Regions from separate parts of the Homo sapiens genome. Here all the other regions are linked to region 1. Evidence: fine-mapped expression QTL. Tissue or cell type: whole blood. Region 1 holds a variant in brackets; each other region holds the start of a gene. All regions are shown on one strand. Distances are from middle to middle.

The links. PIP is the estimated chance that this variant, and not a neighbour inherited with it, causes the effect.
Region 2: it holds the start of TBC1D20, and the variant in region 1 is fine-mapped to the expression of TBC1D20 in whole blood (TOPMed, PIP above 0.99).
Region 3: it holds the start of RBCK1, and the variant in region 1 is fine-mapped to the expression of RBCK1 in whole blood (TOPMed, PIP above 0.99).

Annotation. Positions count from the first base shown.
Region 1 is chr20:369,405-375,487 of GRCh38, reverse strand. No RefSeq gene overlaps it. Among named protein-coding and RNA genes, the nearest start is that of TRIB3, 8.3 kb to the left of the region's middle. The variant T/G (reference allele first, on the strand shown) is at 3,485.
Region 2 is chr20:459,031-464,491 of GRCh38, reverse strand. TBC1D20 (TBC1 domain family member 20) reads left to right here and starts at 1,959. Exons shown (of 8, transcript NM_144628.4): 1 at 1,959-2,156. The coding sequence starts at 2,087. RefSeq lists silencers at 1,520-1,589, 1,870-2,359, 2,428-2,576.
Region 3 is chr20:405,634-411,094 of GRCh38, reverse strand. It overlaps RBCK1 (RANBP2-type and C3HC4-type zinc finger containing 1), which reads right to left and starts at 2,796. Exons shown (of 12, transcript NM_031229.4): 1 at 2,316-2,796; 2 at 1,070-1,214. The coding sequence starts at 2,337. RefSeq lists enhancers at 1,819-1,888, 1,899-1,998, 2,059-2,158, 1,568-2,208, 2,209-2,258 and 1 more and silencers at 2,829-3,098, 4,922-5,078.

The DNA.
Region 1 (6,083 bases):
GTGGACAAGTCACCTCCCTTTGCGGGGGCTTCAAATTTCTTATCTGTAAAATAAGAAGAGAAAGTTGGAGTAGGTCAGTGAGGTCAGTGTTTTCTGAAATATACCATGTACAACAATGGCTGAGTGCCAGAGGGTTTTAGGGTCTCCAGATACCGTATGACATAACTTTGAATCATAATTGTGATACACTTAAACCCTTTCAGTTTTCTTGCTGTTTCTCCAAAGACTCAGGGAGAAAGTCTCATTTAACAGCTTCTTTTTTTTTTTTTCTTTTTCTTTGAGACGGAGTCTCGCTCTGTCACCCAGGCTAGAGTGCACTGGCGTGATCTCAGCTCACTGCAAGCTCCGCCTCCCGGGTTCACGCCATCCTCCTGCCTCAGCCTCCCCAGTAGCTGGGAATATGGGCGTGTGCCACCACACCCAGCTAATTTTTGTATTTTTGCTAGAGACAGGGTTTCACCATGTTGGCCAGGATGGTCTTGATCTCCTGACCACGTGATCCACCCACCTTGGCCTCCCAGAGTGCTGGGATTACAGGTGTGAGCCACCGCGCCCGGCCAACAGCTTGTATGGTTTTTTTTTTTGTTGTTGTTGTTTTGTTTGTTTTTGAGACGGAGTCTTGCTCTTGCTCTGTCACCCAGGCTGAAATGCAGTGGTATGATCTCAGCTCACTGCAATCTCTGCCTCCCGGGTTCAAGCGATTCTCCTGCCTCAGCCTCCCAAGCAGCTGGGACTACAGGCGCCCGCCACCACGCCCGGCTGATTGTTGTTGTTGTTGTTATTGTTTTTAGTAGAGACGGGGTTTCACCGTGCTAGCCAGGATGGTCTCGATCTCCTGACCTCGTGATCCACTCGCTCGGCCTCCCAAAGTGCTGGGATTACAGGCATGAGCCACCGTGCCCGGCCTCACAGCTTCTATGTTTTTAACACCTCTCTTGTTAAGAATGAGACAGCAGAGTTCAGCTTGGAGCCTTCAGCAAGAAACAGGATTTAGCTGGAATGGAATAACCTGGTTCTGCTTTTTTTGTATGTAATTGTATGCTTACCTCTTCTTTATGGCAAATCATAGTAGTTTTCTATTTGAGGTCAGTGATTTAAAATTTCCATGTTAAATAAATTTAGATAAGTTTTTTAAAATGAGGTGGTTGTGGTCAAGCACAGTGGTCCATGCTTGTAATCCCAGCACTTTGGGAGGCAGAGGTGAGTGGATCACCTGAGGTCAGGAGTTTGAGACCAGCCTGGCCAACATGGCAAAAACCTATCTCCGCTAAAAATACAAAAATTAGCTGGACGTGGTGGCATGCACCTGTAGTCCCAGCTACTTGGGAGGCTGAGGCATGAGAGTCGCTTGAACCCAGGAGGCAGAGATTGCCGTGAGCCGAGATCATACCACTGCACTTCAGCCTGGGTGACAGAGCAAGACTCTGTATAAAAAAATAAATAAAATAAATAAATAAATAAATAAGTAAAAGATGAGCTGGTTGGAAGGAAGACATTATGGAACTAATATAAAAAATAAGTACATGGATTCAGACCAATCAACTTGGGGAAGACAGTGGGTGATTCAAGAATGGCAACTCCAGGGCTGTGATCCTCTCTGGGAGCCCTTATCTAGGAGACCGGGCACCTCCCTTCTCTGGAGGCCCCTGGGGGCTTTGCAGAAATCTCTCACCATCCAGATCACGCTAGGCTGGGCCTAAGGAGAGGCAGGAAGGCCAGCCCGGCGGTTGCCCCAGGGGCGGCCTGGGATTCTTCCTGAGAAAGGCTCTTCTCATGCCTGTGGGTGGAGCCCTGTGTGGGGACCTCCCTTACGTCATCTTGTGTCATCCTCAAACTTCCCCATGAAGCTGCTATTTTTATCCCTGGAGACAGATGAGGAAACCAGGGCTCAGAGCAGTGACATCACTAGTTTAAGGAGGGAGGAGACAGTGGGATTCAGAGCCAGCTGGCCTGGCTCAAAATCCGTGTGGTCTCTTGTCCACTGTCTTGGACAAAGTCACTTAGCTACTCAGACCCACAGCCCTATCTATAAAGTGGGATTGATGACAGTGTTTTCCTGTAGGGTTATTGAACTGCTTATTGTCATTGGGATTTCCCTCCCTCCCTTCCTTCCTTCCTTCCCTCTTTTCTTTTCTTTTCTTTTGAGAGAAGATCTCACTCTGTTGCCCAGGCTGCAGTGCAGTAGGGTGATCATGACTCACTGTAGCCTCAACCTCCCAGGCTCAAGCGATACTCCCGCCTCAGCTTCCTGAGTAGCTGGGACTATGGGCATGCACCACCATGCCTGGCCTGGGAACTGTTATTGGATTAAATGGAGGGTTAAATGGGCTAATACAGGTTAAGTTCACGCTTAGGAGAGTTCCCAGCACATGGTAAGCACTGGAGGGTGAGTGGCTATTATTATTTCCAAGGCCCCAGGGCTGCTGCACCTCCTTCCCCAGCAAACACACCCAGTGAGAGCTGAGGATAAAGGGGGAGGTGGGGACACACTTCCTGAGAGTGGCCCATGTGGAGCCTAAGCTGTGCCTTCCAGTGCTTCCTCATGTCAGCCTCACCACAGCCCTGTGAGCTAAGGATGCATTTACGCCCACTTTGCAAGTGAGCAAATCCAGTGTCAAAGAGTGAAAGTAACCTGCCCAGCGTTACACAGCTAGCCAGTGTGGCTTTTTGAGACGGAGTCTCACTCTCACCTAGGAGTGCGGTGGCATGATCTCAGCCCACTGCAACCTCCGCCTCCCGGGTTCAAGCGATTCTCACGCTTCTGCCTCCTGAGTAGCTGGGATTACAGGCGTGTGCCACCACGCCTGGCTAGTTTTTGTATTTTTAGTAGAGATGGGGTTTTACCATGTTGGCCAGGCTGGTCTCAAACTCCTGACCACAAGTGATCTGCCTGCCTCAGCCTCCCAAAGTGTTGGGATTACAGTCATGAGCCACCGTGCCTGGCCTGGGATTTAAACCCAGGTCTGCGTGGTTCCAAAGTCCACGTCATTCCACCATTTCAGGAGCCTCAACAGGATTGACGGGAGGTTCCTGGGGAAGTCCCGTGTCCTCCTCAAGGGTGAAGGGTTCTCTCTTTCTGTGTAGTGGAAATAGCTAGATCATAGCCATGGGCTGAAGACAGCTGGTCTGGTTCTGACCTTGCCTCTGACCTTGGGCAGCTACAGGTCTCTCCCTGGGCTTAGGCACATAATTGCTGCTTTGTATGTATAAGGGGTTAGGATCTCCAAACTTCCAGGGATCCTGATTCTCTTTCTCGCCTCTCAGCTGGAGGATGAGGGAGCCCCAGATCTGCCAGCTCCCAGTGCTGGACGCATTGCTGAGTCACCTGACCTTCCTTCCTTCCTGCCTGCCTTCCTGCCTTCCTTTTGCCTGCAGGTCCTGAAGCCATCAAAGGCCAGAGAAGGAAGGGGATTATATGTTCAGTCTGGATAACTGCCCAGGCCTTGCCTTTCTGAGAAAAGCTTGGGGGGTGGGGGTGGAATGC[T/G]GAAGCACTCAGCCAGTTGCATCAGAAAACCTTGCGCAAGGCGCCCTCCTGGGTCCAGCACTGAGCCCTGTCCCATAGTCCCCACCCCTACCCTGTCCCCTGAGGTGCCAGAATGAGGACTGTTCAGCCTTGCGAGGGACACTGAGCAAGGCCAGGCTGTCAGGGAGTGATGGAGGAAGTTGAGGGATGAAGGAAGGCTTTGGGGCCAGTGCTGAGAGGGCTTAGGCCGCCTGGGTGAAGGAACTTGAGCTGGAAGTTGCTCCTCAGGACATTTAGATCCAACTCATCCACCTGGCTTCTCTCCCAAAGAAGAGGAGACAAGGCCAGTGCCCTGGACACTAACTGACCCAGATCCTTGACTGTGGTCCTAGGGTGAACCCTATTGCCTGACTTTGCACTTCAACTGCACTCTGGCCTGAAACCTTGAACATGGTCTGACCTGTGATCACTAAGCCCTGGGCCGTAGCCACAGCTAACGCCGACCCAGGTCCCAAACTGAACGGTGTCTTGGTCACTTTTTCCCCACATGATCCATAAACTGAATTTGAATTCTAGCTCCTGATTGAGTTATAACCCTGGAGATAGATTTAGCTCTAATCCATCATGTGTGACCCCAGGCCCCAGATAAACCCCAACTGTAGCCCCAGATACCCTAGCCATAGATTCTCTCTCTGGTCTCAACAGGGCAGTGCTCAGGCACAGGAATCAAGAGCTTGGCACCTGCTCCCCTCCCCTCTGGGCTGCTCCCCATACCCCCCCAGGTCGAGGAAGGCTGAGGGGCTGGACTGAACATGGGACAGCCCCCTGACCAGCCTGACTGTGACTCAGCAGGGTGGGAGCTGGAGGTAGAGTCAGGCAGGACCACTGGGGATAGGCCAGGCAGGTGCTGAGTCAGGGCAGGGAGAGAGGGACAGTCTCTGAGTGCAGAGCTGGTCTGGGATGTGGGATGGTACATGTGGTCCGACAGGCCCTTTAAGGTAAAGCAGCTCCAGTCCTGAAGCCAGGCCCTTTAAGGCAAATAACCCCGATCCTATCCATCTCCATCTACCCATTTATTGTCCATTTTTCCATCACTTATCCATATTATTCTCTCCCAGAGCATCCTGTTCTTTTCCACCAGAACACTTAACTATAATTGGAATTATGTATGTATTTGTTATTTGTTTAGTGTCTGCCTCACCCACTGAACTACAGGCTCCCTTAGGACAGGCACCTTGCCTGTGTGGCTCACCAGTGTCTCTAGCACCTCATACAGTGCCTGGCACACGGCAAGTGGTCAGTAAATAGTAGTTGAAGAGATTAAATCCCTCCACCCATCTATTCATTCCTTTTCCATCTATGAATTATTATTTTATAATGCATCCCCACCATCTAGCCATTCGAATTTCTCGCTGTTCTTTCATCTACCCTCCATCCGACAAGCATCCATCCATCCACCTACATAGCTTTCCCATATCAATCCATGCTATTTATAGAATCATCCGTTTCTTCAACAAATATTTACTGAGTACCTACTACTTGCCAGGCAACATTCCAAAGGCTAGGGATACTACAGTGAAAATAACAGACAAAAGTGGCGCTTACATTCCATTAGAAGGAAAAGTGCAGCCAGGCACAGCGGCTCACACCCGCAATCCCAGTACTTCGGGAGGCTGAGGCGGGAGGATCACTTGAGCCTAGGAGTTTTAGACTAGCTTAGGCAACATGGTGAAACCTCATCTCTACAAAAAAGTACAACAACTAGCCAGGCATGGTGGTGAGTGCCTGTAGTCCCAGCTACTCAGGAGGCAGAGGAGGGAGGATGGCCTGAGCCAGGTAGGCCAAGATTTCAGTGAGCTGAGATCATGCTGCTGCACTCCAGACTGGGCAACAGAGTGAGACCCTGTCTCAAAAAAAAAAAGAAAGAAACATGCAAGAAATAATTACCATAATAAGTACATTGTAGCACATGTTAGGGGGTGACGAATGCAAGGGAAAAAAAGAGTAAGTACAGAGATGAGGAGTGTTGGGTGGGCAGGCAGTGGCTGTATTGAGTGGAGTGTTCAGTGGATGCCCTGAGACTATCCGAAGGGCAAATTCTTCAGGAAGAGGAACAGCTCATGCAAAAGCTCCAAAAGGAAGCTGACTAGCTGACTGGTGTGCCATCGGAGAAGGTCAATGTGGCTGGAGTGCAGCCAGTGACAGGGAGGCGGTGGGAGATGAGGTCAGAGAGGTAAAGGGGGTTCAGATAATCTGGAGCTTTGGAGGCCTTTGAAAGGACGCTGAGGAGTCATGGGGAGGCAGGGGAGGGTTTAAGGAGAGGAGGGAAGTGATCTCACTTACCTTTTTTTTTTTTTTTTTTTTTTTGAGATGGAGTCTCGCTCCTGTCATGCAGGCTGGAGTGCAGTGGCGCGATCTTGGCTCACTGCAACCTCCACCTCCTGGGTTCCAGTGATTCTTCTTCCTTAGCCTCCTGAGTAGCTGGGACTACAGGCGTGCATCACCTTGCCCGGCTAATTTTTGTATTTTTAGTAGAGATGGGGTTTCATCATGTTGGCCAGGCTGGTCTCGAACTCCTGACCTCAGGTGATTCACCCGCCTCAGCCTCCCAAAGTGCTAA
Region 2 (5,461 bases), 89 kb before region 1:
TATCTCAAATTGCTTGAGCACGTTACTCTTAAACTGGGATGACTTAAATCTTCCTTCAGTGGGCACTAAGCATCTTTTAACCTCAATGATGATTTATTTCATTTTATTTATTTATTTTTTGAGATGGAGTCTCACTCCGTCTCTTAGGCTGGAGTGCAGTGGCGCAATCTTGGCTCACTGCAACCTCTGCCTCCCAGGTTCAAGCAATTCTCCTGCCTCAGCCTCCCAAGTAGCTGGGATTACAGGCAGGCACCACCATGCCCAGCTAATTTTTGTATTTTTAGTAGAGATGGGGTTTCACCATGTTGGTGAGGCTGGTCTTGAACTCCTGACCTCAAGTGATCTGCAGCCCTTCACCTCCCAAAGTGCTGGGATTACAGGCATGAGCCTCACAGATGATTTAGAACAAAGACTAGAAATGTTTTCAAACTTCTAGTATTAATAATTTTGCATTAAGGCATCTGTGTAAATGTGATACTTTAAATTCCTATAATGTTCAAGATAATTTCAAGAGCTTGGCACTGTGATTCACGCCTGTAATCCCAGAGCTTTGGGAGGCGAAGGCAGTTTGAGACCGGCCTGGGCAACATAGGGAGATTCCCCACCCCCTCTATAAAAACTAAAAAAACTAGCCAGGCATGGTAGTGTGTACCTACAGTCTCAGCTACTCGGGAGGCTGCAACAGGAGGCTAGCTTGAGCCCAGGAGCTTGAGGCTGCAGTGAGCTATGATCGCTATTGCACTCCAGTCTGGGTGATAGAGTGAGACTCTGTCTCAAAAAAAAAAAAAAGATAATTTTGAGAATTCTAACAGATTATTCTTGTACTAATTACAAATATGTATTTGAATAGATTTAGACTTTTGATTTTAAGATGAAATCTCGTTTGTATTGACACATTTGAAAGCACTCATGACTCAGTATTCTTATAAATGTATTACATTTACAAGAATTACACAAGGACTTGAAAGGCTTTGTTAGAAACCTGTGATACTTAGAAAAACGAATTGAATTTATAAATGCAGTTTCAAATGTTCAAAGGATTTTAATTAGCTTAGTTTATTAATGGGACCAAATAACTGATATAATTTACTAGATTTATGAATAGAACTGTAAAACTTGGCTGTGCGCGGTGGCTCACGCCTGTAATCCCAGCACTTTGAGAGGCTGAGGCGGGCGGATCACGAGGTCAGGAGTTTCATGGGCTGGAGGTCTCAGGATAATAAAGAACTGTTGTGGTTGGGGGTGGGAGGTGGAAGAGAGTCATCAAGCAACTGGAATTATGGGAACTTCAGCATGAAGACCTAGCACTAGAAATTCGGGAGGCCACAATCACAATATCAGGGATATAACCAAGGGAATGGATGTCTAATTGGAAAGAAAGGAATATCACTGAAGACGAGAAGGAAATCAGACCTGATAAGCCAGAGCGCTGCTTTAGATGAGTGGCCACTATTTCGCACAACTTAAGGGGGCACGGTTCACGTGAACGTCTACGTAAATGGCGCTCCCAGGCCTTGTGCAGTGCATAACCTGCGGACCCGTATGACATGAACCTGCTAGATCCCCAAGTACCCAAGAACTGATGACAGGAGTTCGTGTGGGGAGACGAGACAGGAGGTAAAAAAATAATCCTTGGTAAGCAAAAATTGGTCATAATTGTGGAGTATTTACTATATGCTTGGTGATGTTCTAAACACTCTCAATAACCTTGTGAGTTCAATATTTTTATTATCATCAATACTATTTTACAGATGAAAGAAGCAAAGGAAACGACAGCTGGTCTCGAGCACACTCGCTCAAGAGCGCCACACTCTACACCGTAGAGTCTACAGCGCAGACGAAGCCAACTCCTCAGAGCGCTCACCGCGCTCTTTCCGCAGCCTCCCCCGCCGCCGGCCGGGCGTAGCGCAGGGTCACGTGCCGGCGCGGGGCGGGGCCAGCGGGGCGCCTGCGCGCCTGCGCGCCGCTGGCCGACGGAGGGGAGCCTGCCGATGCCGAGCGGGTGCTACGTCCCGCGGTCGGAGCCGCGTCTTCTCCCGGCTCCGCCACCAGCCGGGGCTCGGGTGGGGGCCCGGGGCCCCGGGGCATGGCCCTCCGGAGTGCGCAGGGCGACGGCCCCACCTCCGGCCACTGGGACGGCGGCGCGGAGAAGGCAGGTACGGAAGCCGACCGGGGCGCCGGGAGCGGCCTGCGAGGGCGGCCCGGGGGGCAGGGGCAGCTGGCGGAGGCGGCGCCGGAGGGGCGCGGGCTGGGGACCCGGGGCTGCTGCGGGGTTCCGGGCGGCGAGAGGAACAGGCTGAGGGCCCAGGGCACGTCTGATGAGGAGAGGGCCTGGAACTGGGGGGGCTCGGGCGGGTGCCGAGCTGACCCGAGGGAGCCTGGCGGCAGAGTCGCGTCCCCAGGCAGAAGAGCGGGCGGCGGCTTCGCGCCCCGGCTTTCTTCCATCTGGAGAGGACTGGGACTCCTCGAGCGCGGAGGCCAGGCCCACCCCGTCCCAGGCGTCCGCCACGTCCGCAGGCTCCCGGAGCCGCCTCCCCGAGGGGTATCAGCTCTCCCGAACTGCATTCACCGTCGCCGGCTTGATTGACGCGCTGCCCGCGTACCGCCGATGTAATTACCACACAGTTCTTCCTTTAAGGTGCACAGTTCAGTGATTCTTAGAAAATTCACAAAGTTGTGCAGCCATCGCCGCTGTCTGATTCCAAAACGAAACCCTTACCCATTAATAGGCACTCCGCGTTCCCCGGTATTCACGACGCCTGGCAACCACGAATCGACTTTCTGTCTGTCTTCTGCCACCTATTTTAATGTTATTCAATTGTGTAAAAGCGGCCGGGCACCATGGCTCGCGCCTGTAATCCCAGCGCTTTGGGAGGCCATGGTTGGAGGATCGATTGAGGCCAGGATTTCGAGATCAGGCTGGGAAACACAGCGAGGCCTCATCTCTACAAAAAGTTTTTAAAAGTTAGTCGGGTGTGGAGGCTCGAGCCTGTGATCCCAACGACTCTGGAGGCTGAGGCAGGAGGATCGCTTGAGCCCAGGACTTAGAGGCTACTCTATGATTGCGCCACTGCACTCCGGCCTGGGTGACAGATGGAGACCCTATCTCAATAATAATAATAAGTAAATAATTGTATAAAAAGCGCTTCTATTTTTATACTCTTTTAGTTTGGACAATTTCTGTGAAATCATGTTTTTGTTGCACATGATGTTCTCAAATGTTTTTCATTCAATAAATACATGACAGTTAAAATTATGAATGTACACCGTGAACCAAGTTAAATAATCTTTTTTCCTTGAGGAAGACTAAGGTGACTTTCCCTATTTCCAGTCCTCTGATGGATGGTGCCCGTAACAGAGCCAAACACGTTATTAATACAACCCACATATTTTGAGGAAGCTCCTGGTATCTATATTTTATTTTATATTTTATTTGGGCTCATTTTCTGTTTTTCCCTTTTTCTTATGTTCTGATACTGAATGGAAGTGGAGCTCTGAACCCTTTGGCACCGTAACCCTTTAATTACTGGTGTTTGTGTGATGTCTGTCCTCATGGCATAACAGTCAATGCCCTAGGCAGCATGGGTCTTGTGACCTGTTGGCAGTGCAGCTGTGTATCTGTTGCAAGACTTTACCCCCTCTAGTTTCCTTGATTTTGCTTCTCTGGATGAATGGGACAAATTTAAAGATGAGGTTTTTTGTTTTTGTTATTGTTTTGTTTTTTAATCATATCAGAGTATTGTTGGCAAAGTTACTAATGCTAGAATCCCTCTTTTGTAGCGTTTATAGTCAGATTGGTTTACTTACTAGACTGTTTTTTTCCATTGTAGTGAAACATTCTTTCTTGGTACCTGCTTTTTCCAGGTAGTTAACAGAATCTTTGCTAATTTGGATACTGTTTTGTAGAAACTACTAATGAAGACCTCCAGAAACAGAGGCTAGTTTGTTTTATTTTGTGTTTAATAGAACTCTTACCCAGACTGAAATAAGGTTTTCCTCTCCTGCTGTGGTCTTCTGGTACAGACGTGGAGTTAAAGCATTTTTTTTTTTTTTTTTTGAGAGATGGGATCTTGCCCTGTCACCCGGGTTGGAGTGCAGTGTCACAGTCAAAGCTCACTGTCATCTCCCAACTCCTGGACTTAAGTGCTCCTCCCACCTCAGCCTCCTGAGTAGCTGGGACTACAGGCATAAATTTTCAAGTTAATTTCCAATGTCAATATCAGTAGTTGTGGGTGGGTGTAGGGGTATGTCTGTCTCCCTCCCTCCACACAAAACGGCCCCCCCCTTCCATTGTTTTAAGACTAGCATTTCTTAATTTGAGCTTAATTTCAGTTTAAAGACTGTAAAGCCTTTATGATAATGCAGGCTTAAACCAAATAATCAGTATGGAATTTTGTACGCTCACACGAGATTCCATTATATAAATTAGTTGATCCAAGTTAGTATTTGTTTTGGTGATATGAAAAAATATATGAAAAAACTTTTAGAGGAGGCATGGATAGTGGTCATCTTTAGTTGTTATCGTCCCTTCCCAGTGTATTAAGTGCCCTAATCCAGGTGATTTTGGACATGCCTATTACTCTGAGGGGGCAGAAATCTTTACCTGGATTCTGTAGCCAGAGTTGGGAGAAGTTTAAGCCAATAGTGGGTTGTGTCATCTTTATCTGAACCATTAAGAACCACAGTTCAGATGAAGTGTCCCATTGTTAAAATTAGCATTTTAGGGAGTTGAGTCTGATCTCCCTCCCTGACTACAAAACCCTGTTGCAGTTGTTGCTATACCTATTGCTGTGGTGCCCCTCAAATAAAGTCTGCTTTGCCCTCTTTATAAATAAATAAATAAATAAATAAAAATAAGCGTTCTAATGAAGAGTAGGCCAAAGTCATACCTATCTTCCTTTGTTGAATGAATTACTTTTCAGGCATCAGGGATTTATTTATAGCAGTCTTATATTTTGCAGCCAGCTGTAGGACGGTCATTCGTTCCATCATGGTTATGATAGCCAAGACCTCTACTATAAAGGAATTTGGAAGGTATCAGCTTTGGAATAATAGTGCACTATCTTGTAAGTGGGGCAATAAAGAAATTGGAGAAGAAAGGATTGAGGGAGATTAGAATGACATACATTCTACCTCTAGATGAAATGTGGGCTTTTATTCCAAGCCAGATACAGCGTTCTCAAGTCCAGAAATGTGTGTCCTGCTCTAAATCTATAAAGTTTATCTCGAAATACAATAGATAATAGGCATTTATTTTAATCTTTTCCTGAACATCCCAAGAATAGCTCTATGATGTTTCTCTTTCGGAAATAAACAGGATGTCTGTGAATTTGTCTTTCAGTGGAGACGCTGCTAACTCCCTCCCTGTGTCGTCTAGCAGTTGATCTCACTCTGTAATTCATACATCTTTAGCTCACTTGAATTTTCTGTTTCCTCTTCCCTTTTTATGTCACAGTGAGAG
Region 3 (5,461 bases), 36 kb before region 1:
GTAGATCCCTAGAGATAAAAAGTAGATTAGTGGTTGCCTAAGGTTGGGGAGTTAGGGAAAAGGTAGAGAGATGAGGACTGGCTGCTAATGAGTACCAGGTTTCTTTACAGGATGATGAAAATGTTCTAAAATTGATTGTGGCAATGGTTGCACAACCTTGAATATACTAAAAGCCATTGAACTGTATACTTTAAATGGTCGAACTGTAAGGATAAATAAATAAATAAAACTGTTTTAAGAAAAACCAAATGGGACCCACCAAGAGAACCAAAAATCAGAAACCATAAAACTATTGCCTTACTATCCAGTAATGAAAAAGCAGTCAAAAAATAACGATAGACACTAATGTTTATTATTGAGTGCATAACACGCCAGGCATTGTGCAAAGTGTTTCAGCATTGAGTTTAAGTCTCCTGGAGCACAGACCGACAGTATCCATTCTCTTCCCTTCCCTTACCAAGCGAACCCCTGAATTCTAGCTGAATATCTTGGCTATACAGTCTCCCCTCAAGCTGAACTGTAGCTGTGGGAATCAGTTCTGGTCCACAGGAATTAACGGAAGAAGTGTGTACAATTTTTGAGCTATGCTCTTTAGAAGAGTGTGGAGGGGTGTCTTTCTTCCCTTCCTCCTGTGATGTGATGGCTGGATGGAGCTGGAATGGCCATTTTGCACCATGAGGAATCTGGGAATGAATGGCAGAATGGTGAGAGAAACAATATGAGCCTCTGAGGACTGTCGGGAGCAGAACCTCCCTATCTGGACTCCCTGCCATCAAATTTGTTTACGTCACTGTTCCGTTTTCTTCTGTTGTATAAGGCCTAACATCCTAATACAGTACACCTCCTAACAACCCTATGAGATAGCTACTGTTACGGTCTGATTTTTAAAATGAGGACACACTGAGAGGTGAAGTGACCTGCTCTGTATTTCACAGTTGATTAATGACATAACTAGGGTTAGAAGCCAGGCCTCCTGAAGCCAGAACGTGCCATTAGGAAGAACTGTTCTACAGGCAAGAATATCCTGTCCTGCTGTCCCTTGGGTTCAGGCCAGCCATGCACTCCTCACCTGATGTCCTGCGTTGGGGAGACCTCAGGCTTCAGTTGCACACTCAGGGGCACCCGTTGCTCTGCCAGCCAGATGGCACACTTCATTGCCACCTGTTCATCCCCGCCCGCCACTGCTCGGGTGAGGCTCAGGGCCATTTCCTCTGCTGAAAGCCAGTACAGCAGGAGCCAGTTAGCACAGGGTTTATTTTCAGGAGCTGAGAGTAATGGGGTAGGAAAGGAGGCGATCCTTTGTGTGTGCTGCTTTCTCTGTCTTCCTGGTGAACTCCTACGTATCCTTCAGCACCCAGACTAAAAGTCCCTTTCTCCGGGAGGGGTTCTCTAATATTCCCCACTCCTCCTCACACTAGGCTCATTTGGTTGTTTGTCCTTCCCATTCCCAGGGTCCCTCATATTTCTATTCATTTATCCAACAAGCAGTTATTGAGCTTCTACTGTGTGCCACCCACTGTCCCAGGAACTGGAATCCCACAGAGATTTATAAACAGGGCCCCTCTCCTTATGGATCTCCCTGCCCAGTGGGGAGACAATGAACAAGTTTAACAAGAAAAAAAAAAAAAGTCAGATTGCGATCCTTGCTGGCAGGGAAATAAACAGGTTAAGGAGACCAGGGGAGGCCTCTGGGAGGGGGTAACACTGAAGCTAAGACCTGAAGGAGGAGAAGCTGCACGTGTCAAGCTCCAGTGGGGAAGAGTGGTCCAGGTGGAAGGAAGAGTAAGGGCCTTGGCCAAAAAATGGTTGGATGAGAACCGAAGGAAGCCAGTGGGGCTCCAGTAGAGTGAGCATGGCGGGGTGACTGAGGACAGATATCCTGTGGGCCACCCAGGGCCTCTGGGTTTTGTTTGGAGAACACAGAGGGGCATGGGAGGGTTTCCAGCAAGGCAGTGACTGACTTCCGTTCTACAACCCTAGGTGCAGGGGACAAGAGAAGAGGCAAGTACCCCTGCTTCTCAGGTCAACTGACGTCTGTCTCCCACCAGCCCAGGAGGTCTCCAAGTTCAATGCCCTGTGTCCTCTGCGAGTCCCCTAGCCCCATCTCAGCACAGAGCCAGCCCAAGGAGTTCTCAGGGCCCCAAGATGGCTCTGGAAGCCAGCAGGTACCAAAGGAGGAAACTGATGGGGAGGAGGGTAGAGGGAGGGCAGGCTAAAGCCCCCTCTCCAAGGCCCTTCTGGCCAGGGGCAAGGCCAGGTCCTGCGGGGCCCACTTCCCACCGGAAGTTCCCCAGCCACCTCCAGCCTGTGCCCACCTTTCTTGGTCTTCTCGTCCATCTGGCGTGGCTGTGCCCATCCCCCTGGGGGGGACCGTGCCTCCTGGGAAATGCTACCTCCGGGTCGCCTGGGAGAGGCGGGAGACCAGGAGCAACTCAGCCAGGCCGTGTGGCCTCCGGCGCGGCCCAAGCCCTGTGTGTGCCTCGCTGTCCCCGCGGCAGTCGGGAAGCATCACACTGCCCGGTGACCAGGCCGGGATCCTGCGTGGGGCGGTGAGAGGGCAGCGGGCGCCGAGACAGGTCCGCACTGGGCGCAGGAGGAAACGGGACCAGCCGAGGTGGGAAGAAGCGGGGAAAGGACGCCCGGACACCACCCAGCCGGGGCGTTCCAAGTCCCGGAGGACCCCCACTTGCGGGAGCGCCCCTGGCGTCCCGGGTTTCAAGGCAAAGCCCTCTCTCCTCCCGGGAGGCCCCAGTTCTTCGCAAGGGGAGCGGCTTCGGCGGAAGAGAAAGTGAAAGTGGCGGCCCCGGAAGTGGGGCGGGACTGGGAGGGGGGGCCGGAAAAATTGTCGCCTCATCCGGGACCTCCACTGCCCGGCTACCCGGCGGCGGCGGACGCCGAGTGCGGGGTCCCAGCGGTCCCGGCGCTCCTGTTTGGGGCGACCCCACCCCGTCCTCCGGGGCTGATCGCGGGTCCCCGGACTCCCGCCCGGGTCACCCTGCGGGCCGCATCGCAGAGCCGCGGGAAGGAGCTGGGCCGCAGGCGGGGTGGGCGGGGCCGGGGCGGGGCCGGGGGCGGGGCCGGGGGGGCCGGGGGCTGGGGGCGGGGCCGGGGTGGGCCGGGGGCCGGGGCCGGGGCCGGGGGCGGGGCCGGGGGCAGGAGCAGGAGCCTGAGCAGGAGTCGGCGCCGGAGCCGGGGCTGGAGGGCGGCGGGATCCACAGCGTCGAGCCGCTGGGGACGGGTTAGGAGCGCGCCCTGCGAGCCCGGCGCCTGCTCACCCAAGCCTCAGGCATACCTCGGGGCAGGCCCGGTCCTTGGCCCCGTTTGCACATGAATAAACGAAGGCTCTGTTTGTTGATGACCTGTCCAAGGCCACTCAGCCGAGGTTTGAATCCAGGCCTGGCAGGCTCAGGAACCCGCCCTTACCCAGATCCGACGCTGCCTCTCAGCGGTCACCGTCTGTCTTTTCGTTGAGCTATTGGTGAAGTTTGCATTCGTCTGCCTCATGCGCCGCTTTAATTTTTCTCCCGTTCCTCGTCCCATCGATCAGCAGATCCTGCGGGCTCCACTTGCAGAATCTCATCCCTCACCTCCTCCGGCCCCATCCCGCTCCAGCTCCATCAGTGCTCCATCATCTCAGGGGTCTTGAACCAGCCTCCTCCTGGGCCTCCTTGCTTCTCTTTTTGCCCCCTACCGTCCATTTCCACCTAGCTGCCGGAGAGTCCTGTTAAAATGTAAATCAAACCCATGCCACTCCCCGACCCAAGTACTCCCATCTCACTTAAAGCAAAATCCGAGATCTGTCCCAGGGCTCGCAAATTGCCTCCCGATCTCTGTCTTCGTAGCTGACTGCCCTGCCCCTGCCTCATTCCACTCAAGTCCCATTGACCTGCTGGGTCCTGGAGTAAGTCAGACACACTCCCGCCCTAAGGCCTTTGCACCTGCCATAACCCAAACGTCTGCATGGCTCCCTCCTTCCCTTTATTTTGGTCTTTACCCAAAAATCTTCCCTAGTTACTCCATCTGAAATTTCACAGACACACGTATCCAGCATTTCACATCCGCTTTCCTGGCTTCATTTTTTCTTCTCAGCATCTATTACTGTCTAACGGAGCATGTTTTACTTATTTATGTTATTCTGGGTCTGTTTTCCTCTCCTAGAGGGCAGGGACTTTGGTTTGTTTTGCTCACTGCTGTGTTCCTGGTGTCTAGAACAGTTCCAAACACATAATGGAGGCTCCATATGTTGAATGAAGGAATGAACCTCAGACCTTCATCTGGGATAATTTTTCTTTTGCCGGAAACACATCCCTTTAGACAATGTTTCTTAACTTTGGCTGTACATTTGAATGGCCTGGGGAAGCCTTTTTTTTTTTTTTTTTTTTTTTTGAGATGGAGTTTCACTCTTGTTGCCCAGGCTGGAGTGCAGTGGCGTGATCATGGCTCACTACAGCCTCCAACTCCTGGGCTCAGCTTCCCGAGTAGCTGCAAACCACGGGCACGTGCCACCACAGCTGGCTAATTTTTGTAGAGACAGGGTTTGGTCATGTTGCCCAGGCTGGTCTTGAACTCCTGGGCTCAAATGATCTGCCCACCTCGGCCTCCCAAAATGCTGGGAAATGGTTGCTGTTGAGATATCATCACCTGTCAATCTAACTGCTGTTCTTTTTATAAACAGCTTTATTGAGATATCATCACCTGTCAATCTAACTGCTGTTCTTTTTATAAACAGCTTTATTGAGATATAATTTATATGCCATAAAATCCACCCACCTAAAATATACAATTCAATAGTTTTTAGTAACATTTACAGAATTGTACACCCATCATCACAATCAAATTTTAGGACATTTTTGGCTGAGCATGGTGGCTCACACCTACAATCCCAGCACTTTGAGAGGCCGAGGTGGGCGGATCACTTGAGGTCAGGAGTTCGAGACCAGCCTGGCCAACATGGTGAAACCCTGTCTCTACTAAAAATACAAAAATTAGCCAGGTGTGGTGGCGGACATCTGTAATCCTAGCTACTGCAGAGCCTGAGGCATGAGAATGGCTTGAACCTGGGAGGCAGAGGTTGCAGTGAGCTGAGATCGCACCGTTGTACTCCAGCCTGCGTGATAGAGCGAGACTCTGTCTCAGACCAAAAAAAAAAAAAGAAAGAAAGAACATTCTTATCACCCCAAAATAGACCTGTACTCATTAGCAGACATTCCCTGTTTCCCATCCTCCAACTGACAGCACTAATATACTTTATGTCTCTATAGACTTTCCTCTTCTTGATATTTTATAGAAATTAGATCTTACTGATGGGCCACAGTGGCTCATGCCAGTAATCCCAGCACTTGGGGAGGCCAAGCCAGGTGGATCGCTTGAGCCCAGGAATTCAAGACCAGCCTGGGCAACATGGTGAAACCCCATCTCTACAAAAAATACAAAAATTAGCCGAGTGTGATGGCGTGCACCT